Linked DNA regions of Homo sapiens. Each later gene encodes a partner of the first gene's protein in a complex. Each region holds a gene or a part of one and is shown in the gene's direction. Other genes may lie near its edges.

Evidence for each region. Proteins that work in one complex are often made in the same cells at the same time.
Region 2: CASC3 (region 1) and MAGOH share a complex: the UniProt entries of both Homo sapiens proteins name them as parts of the mRNA splicing-dependent exon junction complex.

Annotation. Positions count from the first base shown.
Region 1 is NC_000017.11:40,164,470-40,168,219, forward strand, and holds part of CASC3 (protein CASC3), read left to right. Parts: intron 1-2,327; coding exon 2,328-2,392; intron 2,393-2,901; coding exon of another isoform or gene 2,902-2,970; exon of another isoform or gene 2,971-3,028; coding exon 3,029-3,143; intron 3,144-3,380; coding exon 3,381-3,479; intron 3,480-3,733; coding exon 3,734-3,750. UniProt on the Homo sapiens protein: Required for pre-mRNA splicing as component of the spliceosome. Core component of the splicing-dependent multiprotein exon junction complex (EJC) deposited at splice junctions on mRNAs.
Region 2 is NC_000001.11:53,231,769-53,235,518, reverse strand, and holds part of MAGOH (protein mago nashi homolog), read left to right. Parts: intron 1-1,866; coding exon 1,867-1,977; intron 1,978-3,750. UniProt on the Homo sapiens protein: Required for pre-mRNA splicing as component of the spliceosome. Plays a redundant role with MAGOHB as core component of the exon junction complex (EJC) and in the nonsense-mediated decay (NMD) pathway.

The DNA of each region.
Region 1 (3,750 bases):
ATGGAGTCTTGCTCTGTTGCCTAAGCTAGATGCAGTGGCACGATCTCGGCTCACTGTAATGTCCACCTCCGGGTTCAAGTGATTCTCCTGCCTCAGCCTCCCGAGTAGCTGGGAGTATAGGCGTGCACTACCACGCTGGGCTAATTTTTGTATTTTTAGTAGAGACCGGGTTTCACCATGTTGGCCAGGATGGTCTTGATCTCTTGACCTTGTGATCCTCCCACCTTGGCTTCCCAAAGTGCCGGGATTACAGGTGTGAGCCACAGCCACCGTGCCTGGCCTTTTTTTTTTTTTTTTTTTTTTTGTGACAGAGACTTGCTCTGTTGCCCAGGCTGGAGTGCAGTGGCACGATCTTGGCTCACTACAACCTCTGCGTCCAGGGCTCAAACAATTCTCCTGCCTCAGCCTCCTGAGTAGCTGGGATTACAGGCTCTCACCACCACACCTGGCTAATTTTTTTTTTTTTTTTTTGAGACAGAGTCTCACTGTTGCCCAGGCTGGAGTGCAGTGGTGTGATCTCGGCTCACTGCAAGCTCTGCCTCCTGGGTTCACGCCATTCTCCTGCCTCAGCCTCCTGAATAGCTGGGACTACAGGCGCCCACCACCGCGACTGGCTAGTTTTTTTTTTTGTATTTTTAGTAGAGACGGTTTCACCGTGTTAGCCAGGATGGTCTCGATCTCCTGACCTCGTGATCCGCCCACCTTGGCCTCCCAGAGTGCTGGGATTACAGGCATGAGCCACCGTGCCTGGCCCACACCTAATTTTTGTATTTTTCATAGAGATGGGGTTTCATTATGTTGGCCAGGCTGGTCTCGAACTCCTGACCTTAAGTGATCGACCCATCTTGGCCTCCCAGAGTGCTGGGATTACAGGCGTGAGCCACTGTGCCAGCCCCAGCTAATTTTTAAAAAATTTTTTGTAGTGATGGGTCTTGCTATATTGCCCAGGCTAATCTTGAACTCCTGGGCTCAAGAGATCCTCCTAAAGCGCTGGGATTACAGATGGAAGACACTGCACCTGCCCGGTCATCATTGAGCCTCCTGAGTACAGGATCATTTTCCACAAAAAGTAGAAGAAGACAACGTTATTATTTGAACTAATGGTTAAATATTTGAAGGCAGAAATTTATTCAGTTGAATTTTGATCAAGATCTTCTCTAATATATTTGAAAGGCAAGCCTCCCTTATTTCCTTAATCTTCTAGAGACAGATTGCCCAATAGAACTTTGTGTAATGATTGTACTTTTGTGTTTTTGTTGTTGTTGTGTTTACATAGATATAGTTTTTTTTTTTGTTTTTTTTTTTTTTTAGATGGGTCCCACTTTGTCACCCAGGCTAGAGTCTGGAGTGCAGTAGCGTGACCTTGGCTCACTGCAACCTCCGCCTCCAGGGCTCAAGCAATCCTCCCATCTCAGCCTCCTCAGTAGCTAAGATCATAAGCACACATCATTACACCTGGCTGATTTTTTTTATTTTTTGAAAAGACGGGGGGTCTCACTGTGTTTTCCAGGCTGGTCTTGAACTCCTGGGCTCAAGCAGTCTTACCTCTGCCACCCAGAGTGCTGGGCTTATAAGCATGAGCCACTGCATCCAGCCGGAATTGAACTTTTAATTAATTGAAACTTAAGTGTCCACATTTGGTTAGTGGATATCATATTGGGCAGCATAGTTTTAGAGAGTAAGACCTACCTATTACCCATTTTGCCTATTGTGGTTTGTTTTTCTCCAGCCAGATAGATCAAAGGATCTTCCCTTAGTCTGAAATCTAACTTAAATATTGGAACTCCTCAATTGGAGTTGCAGCACCCTTCTTACTATTGGAGGACAATCTCTAGAACATTCCTTTTTGTCTTGAGTCATTTTAGCCAGAGGAGAATCTCCTTTCAAACTTCCAACCCAGACCCCTGTGAATGGATATAATCAAGTAGATTTACAAAGCATCCCTCCCTTGTCCAGCTGTTGCTCAGAAACTCTTGGGCTGAGATTTTTCAATATGTTGGATAATGTAATGTGCTAATTATAATCTCTCAGGGATTCTATGCAGGGAACAATTTGATAGGAAAAAATTTGAATTTGATTTTCTTCACTGAAGTCATTTTATTTTTCATTTTCAAGGGCTTTATTGCTATATTAAGATGGCAGACAGTGGGGACAAATTTCTAAATGCTGGTGTTGACAGAAAGCAGAGATAGTTTATAGAGAATTTTATTAGTTAAAAGAAAAAAGGCATTCCTTATGTTGACACTTAAACCTGTCTCTTGATAGTATCTTTGAGTCCCACTCACGTATGTCTGATCTGCAGAAGTGACTTTTTTGGTGTATTACAGGTATGCCCAACCATATACACATGGGAGCAGGACCTCCACCTCAGTTTAACCGGATGGAAGAAATGGTACAGAAGGGGAAAGGGGTAGATGGGGGAGGGAGCTGCCTGTTACACAGCTTGTTCATTGTTTAAACCAAGATAAGGTCTTTTTTTTTTTTCTTTTCTTTCTTTCTTTTTTTTTGAGACAGAGTCTCGCTCTGTTGCCCAGGCTAGAGTGCAGTGACGGGATCACGGCTCACTGCAAGCTCTGCCTCCTGGGTCCCAGTTCAAGCAATTCTGCCTCAGCCTCCCGAGTAGCTGGCATTACAGGCACGTGCCATCATGCCCAGCTAATTTTTGTATTTTTAGTAAAGACAGGGTTTCACCATGTTGGCCAGGCTGGTCCTGACTCCTGACCTCATGATCCACCCACCCTGGCCTCCCAAAGTATTGGGATTACAGGCATGAGCCACCACGCCCGGCCAAGATAAAGTCAGTTTTTCCATTGATTATGCATGTTTCTTTTAATTTGGATCTCCTAAATGTAAGGTAGAAGGTTTAGGTTCAAATCTTGATATCTTTTCATTATTTTTCAGCTCACTTTGCAAATATCCATTAAATACCTGCCATGTACCAAGTGTTTTTCAACACCTAAAGGAAGGTAGGACTTGATATGAGAGCCCTCTAGAATTCTTATTGTTTAGGCCTCTTTCTTTGTCTCAGGGTGTCCAGGGTGGTCGAGCCAAACGCTATTCATCCCAGCGGCAAAGACCTGTGCCAGAGCCCCCCGCCCCTCCAGTGCATATCAGTATCATGGAGGGACATTACTATGATCCACGTGAGTTTTTTCTTACTGTTGGGGTACTTTTCTTGGCAGGGTGAAGTGAAGTAAGATACCAGGCTCCTGGCTCCTGAATTTCTCTTCTGACCTCTTATAGTGGTTATCAAACATTGTCTGGTTGCTGTTTTCTTCGCATGGAATATTGAGAACATCTTTTAAAGGGCTTGGGGAACAAGGAGACTTGTCCATGTGAAGAGTAAGGGTTTATGAGAGTCCCAATGTGATATCTTACAGTGCAGTTCCAGGGACCAATCTATACCCATGGTGACAGCCCTGCCCCGCTGCCTCCACAGGGCATGCTTGTGCAGCCAGGAATGAACCTTCCCCACCCAGGTAAGCTTTGTGTCTCTGCTTATATGCTTCCAGTACCTGAGGATATATGTTGGGAGTGCCACAAAACCCATCCTCCTGAGCTTTGTGCTGCTAGCCTGGGAGTCTGGCCATCCTGGCTGCTTGGGCAACAAGTTCCTCTTGTGTCCATCCTGAGGACTTCCATTCTGAGCCTGATTATACTGAGCAGTCCAGCCGGGCCATCCTGTGAAAATGATGTTACTTTATTTTTCAGTTTTTTTCTTCTCCTTATCCAGGTTTACATCCCCACCAG
Region 2 (3,750 bases), on another chromosome or scaffold:
GCATTGTTTTTATTGTTTCTAGTAGTATTGAAAGATAAAGAACAGGGAGAGAGACACATGTCTGTAGACAGCTTCTGGATTATTTCCCAAATCATCTTTTAGTTGGGATTTTTTTATTTTACATTGTGGAATCAATTACTGGTAACCTTTGACATACCTTGGTTTGAACCCTGAGTCTGCTGCTTACTACCCCATGTGACCTTGGGCAAGTTCCTGGCTGAACTTGATAAATCTCTGTTTCTTCACCTGTAAAAACAGGAATAATAAAAGCTACCTCCCACTCCCAAGTGCTGTCATAAAATTAAATATGTTCTATTTAAAGTGCTCTATATTCCCTGTGTACATGGTACACAATGAAGAGCTATTTAATTTACATCTGAGTGGGAAAGGGAGCATGGGAAAGCAGTTGACATCATTGAATGCATGTTAGATGTCAGGCGTGGCATCTTATTTAACCCTGATTGTAAGCCCATGTGATGGGGGAGGGTATTATAGCCCCCTTACAAATAAGAAAATAAAGGCCCAGGTATTAATTATGAGGCTTGTTCTGAGTTACCCCTGCTAGTAAGAGATACAGCAGGAATTCCCAATCCTGCCCCAGTAAAGTTTGTATTCTCCGTTCTGTGATTTCTACTACATCATTAAGGCTTCATCAAAGCTACTCTTTCCTTTTAACCACTTTGCCACCTTTGAAAATGTCTTAGCATATATTTTCATATTGTTATTTTAGCTATTGATTTTATGCTTATTCACACATGTCAATATCCTCACTATTTTTTTACACAGGCATATCTTTTAAAATACATTTTGCTCCTCAGGAGTGTATTACCTAGTTAAGAATAACTGGCCGGGCGCGGTGACTCACACCTGTAATCCCAGCACTTTGGGAGGCCGAGGCGGGCGGATCACGAGGTCAGGAGATCGAGACCATCCTGGCTAATACGGTGAAGCCCTGTCTGTACTGAAAATACAAAAAAATTAGCCAGGCATGGTGGCGGGTGCCTGTAGTCCCAGCTACTTAGGAGGCTGAGGCAGGAGAATGGCATGAACCCAGGAGGCAGAGTTCGCAATGAGCCGAGATCGCACCACTGCACTCCAGCCTGGGCGACAGAGCAAGGCTCCGTTTCAAAAAAAAAAAAAAAAAAGAATAACCAGGGCATGTGGGTGTCGCAGTCTCTTTTTTGCTGCAACAAAATGCCTGAGACTGGGTAATTTGTAAGCAGTAAAAATATATTTCTCACAATTTTGGAGGCTGGAAAGTCCAAGATCAAGGCGCTGGCAAGTTCAGTGTCTAGTGAGGGCCCAGTCTCTGCTTCCACAACTGTGCCTTGTTTTTGCATCCTCCAGAAGGAATGAATGCTGTGTCCTCATATGGTGAAAGAACAAGAAAGGGGCCAGCTAGTTCCCTTAAGCTCTCTCCTAAAGCACTAATCTATCCCTGGGGCCTCTGCCCTCAAGGCCTGATCACCTCCTAAAGGCCCTATCTCTTAACACTGTTGCTTTGGGGATTAATTTCAGTATGATTTTTTTGGAGGAGACAAAAACATTCAAACCATGGCAGGGGGCACTCACAGACCTGTTTTGGGTTTCGTTGTGAGTTGGGTATGTGGGCAGGCAGAAGGGCCATGTGAACAGGATGTACCAGGAGGTAGTAACAGCTAGATAGGGGACTGAGGTGCAGTTACTGGATACTTCTGACCGTGTCCCTCACCTGCATCATGCCGAGGTTGAGCATGAATGTCTTCCCACTTAAGGAGATGCCAGAAATAAGTCTGCAGGAACAGTTATTTTTATCTTCCATCACTATCTGAGTCAAAGCACTGCTTAAGGATACAACATACATTTTGTTTTTTAACTTGCGTTCAGGCTTATGTACATAAAAGCGTGATGGAGGAACTGAAGAGAATAATTGACGACAGTGAAATTACCAAAGAGGATGATGCATTGTGGCCTCCTCCTGACCGAGTGGGCCGGCAGGTGTGTTTTATTGATTATCCTGTAGTGCAGAAATCTTACAAATAAGACCCCCCACACTCCCTCCTCCACTTAAAGCTTTTGTTGCCTATCTCACTTACTAACTACTATGGACAAAGCATTGTGGAGATACAAAGAGAAATAGAACATAATTATTTCAACAATCTAATGAAAGGAAAATCATACAAATAATTCAGTGTATGTATTTAAATTCATGTATATTTATATACATTAATGTATATATTCATTCTGAGCACCATTTTGGTAACTAAAAAATAAAAGCCACTGTCATATTGAACTGAATTAACAGAAAAGGTATTTTCACTCTTGACTGCTACCATCCTAATCCAGACTTCTAATAGATTTCCTTGTTTTTCCTCTTGTTCCATACCATCCATTTTTCCATCCTGAAAGCCAGTGTGATTTATTTATTATTTTTTTTTTGAGTTGGAGTCTCGCTCTGTCGCCCAGGCTGGAGTGCAGTGGCATAATCTCAGCTCACTGTAACCTCTGCCTCCTGGGTTCAAGCGATTCTCCTGCCTCAGCCTCCCGAATAGCTGGGATTACAGGCGTCCTCCACCATGCCCAGCTAATTTTTGTATTTGTAGTAGAGATGGCGTTTCACCATGTTGGCCAGGCTAGTCTCAAACTCCTGACCTCAGGTGATCCGCCTGCCTTACCCTCCCAAAGTGCTGTGGTTACAGGCGTAAGCCGCCGCATCCTACTGGTCTGATCTTTAAAAACGTAAATTTGCTTATGTATTCCACTGATTTAAACTCCAATGGCTTCCCACTGTACTTAAAATTCAAACTCCCACCTTATCTTTTACCGGGCTTCCAATCTGTCATGGTGTTCAAACCTTACTAGCTTCATTTCTGTTCCTCAGACATACCTAGGTGGTTCTTACTTCAGGGCCTTTGCACTTGCCACATTCCGCCTAAAATATTCTTCCTTTAACTTTATACAAGACTGTCTCTATTATTGAGGTCTTCAAAAGTCACTTCCTCAGTGATGTCTTGCCTGTCCATCCAATCTAAGAAGTCGCTTCCCATCATTAAGAAAAAGATCTGTTGTGTTGTCTTTTTGTGTTTTTTTTTCTTTTTGCTTTCAGTTTTATCACAATATGTGTTGTCTTTGTAGCACTTGCTATTGTCTAAAATTGTCTTACTTGCTTTTCAGTGTTTTCCACTGCTGTATCTCTAGTGACTAAAATAGTACCCATGTATAGTAAAAGCTCAATAATAATGTATTTGTTAAATTAATATGAAAACCCATATAAACTCATTCCTAATAATCTCAAAATGATGGACCAACCCTTGAAGAGTTTTTTTTAAAAATCCACCCTCAGTACTTACTAAAGTTAACTTTAATTTATGTTCAAGGGAGCTCAGTAATATCATATATATGTATTTTGCTTTACCACTTATAAAATTTTTATTTCTATTAACTCGTTCTACCATCACAACAATTCTGTAAAGAGGGAAGGGCATATTCCTTTGTACCAGCAATAAGCCATTGGATACTGTAATTAAAATCAATTCCATTAATAATTGCAAGAAGAGTTATAAAGAACTTGGGAATGCATTTAACAAGATGTACAAAACTTGAAAGGGCTTTATAGAAGGACAAAAATATGTATCGTTTTTGTGGATGGCAAGATTCAGTATCATAAAGATGTCAGTTTTCAACAAAGTAATTTATAAATTCACTCTTAATTCAAATAAAAATCGCAGTAGGATTTTTTTCCCTTTAGAATCAAATAGAATGAGCATTAAA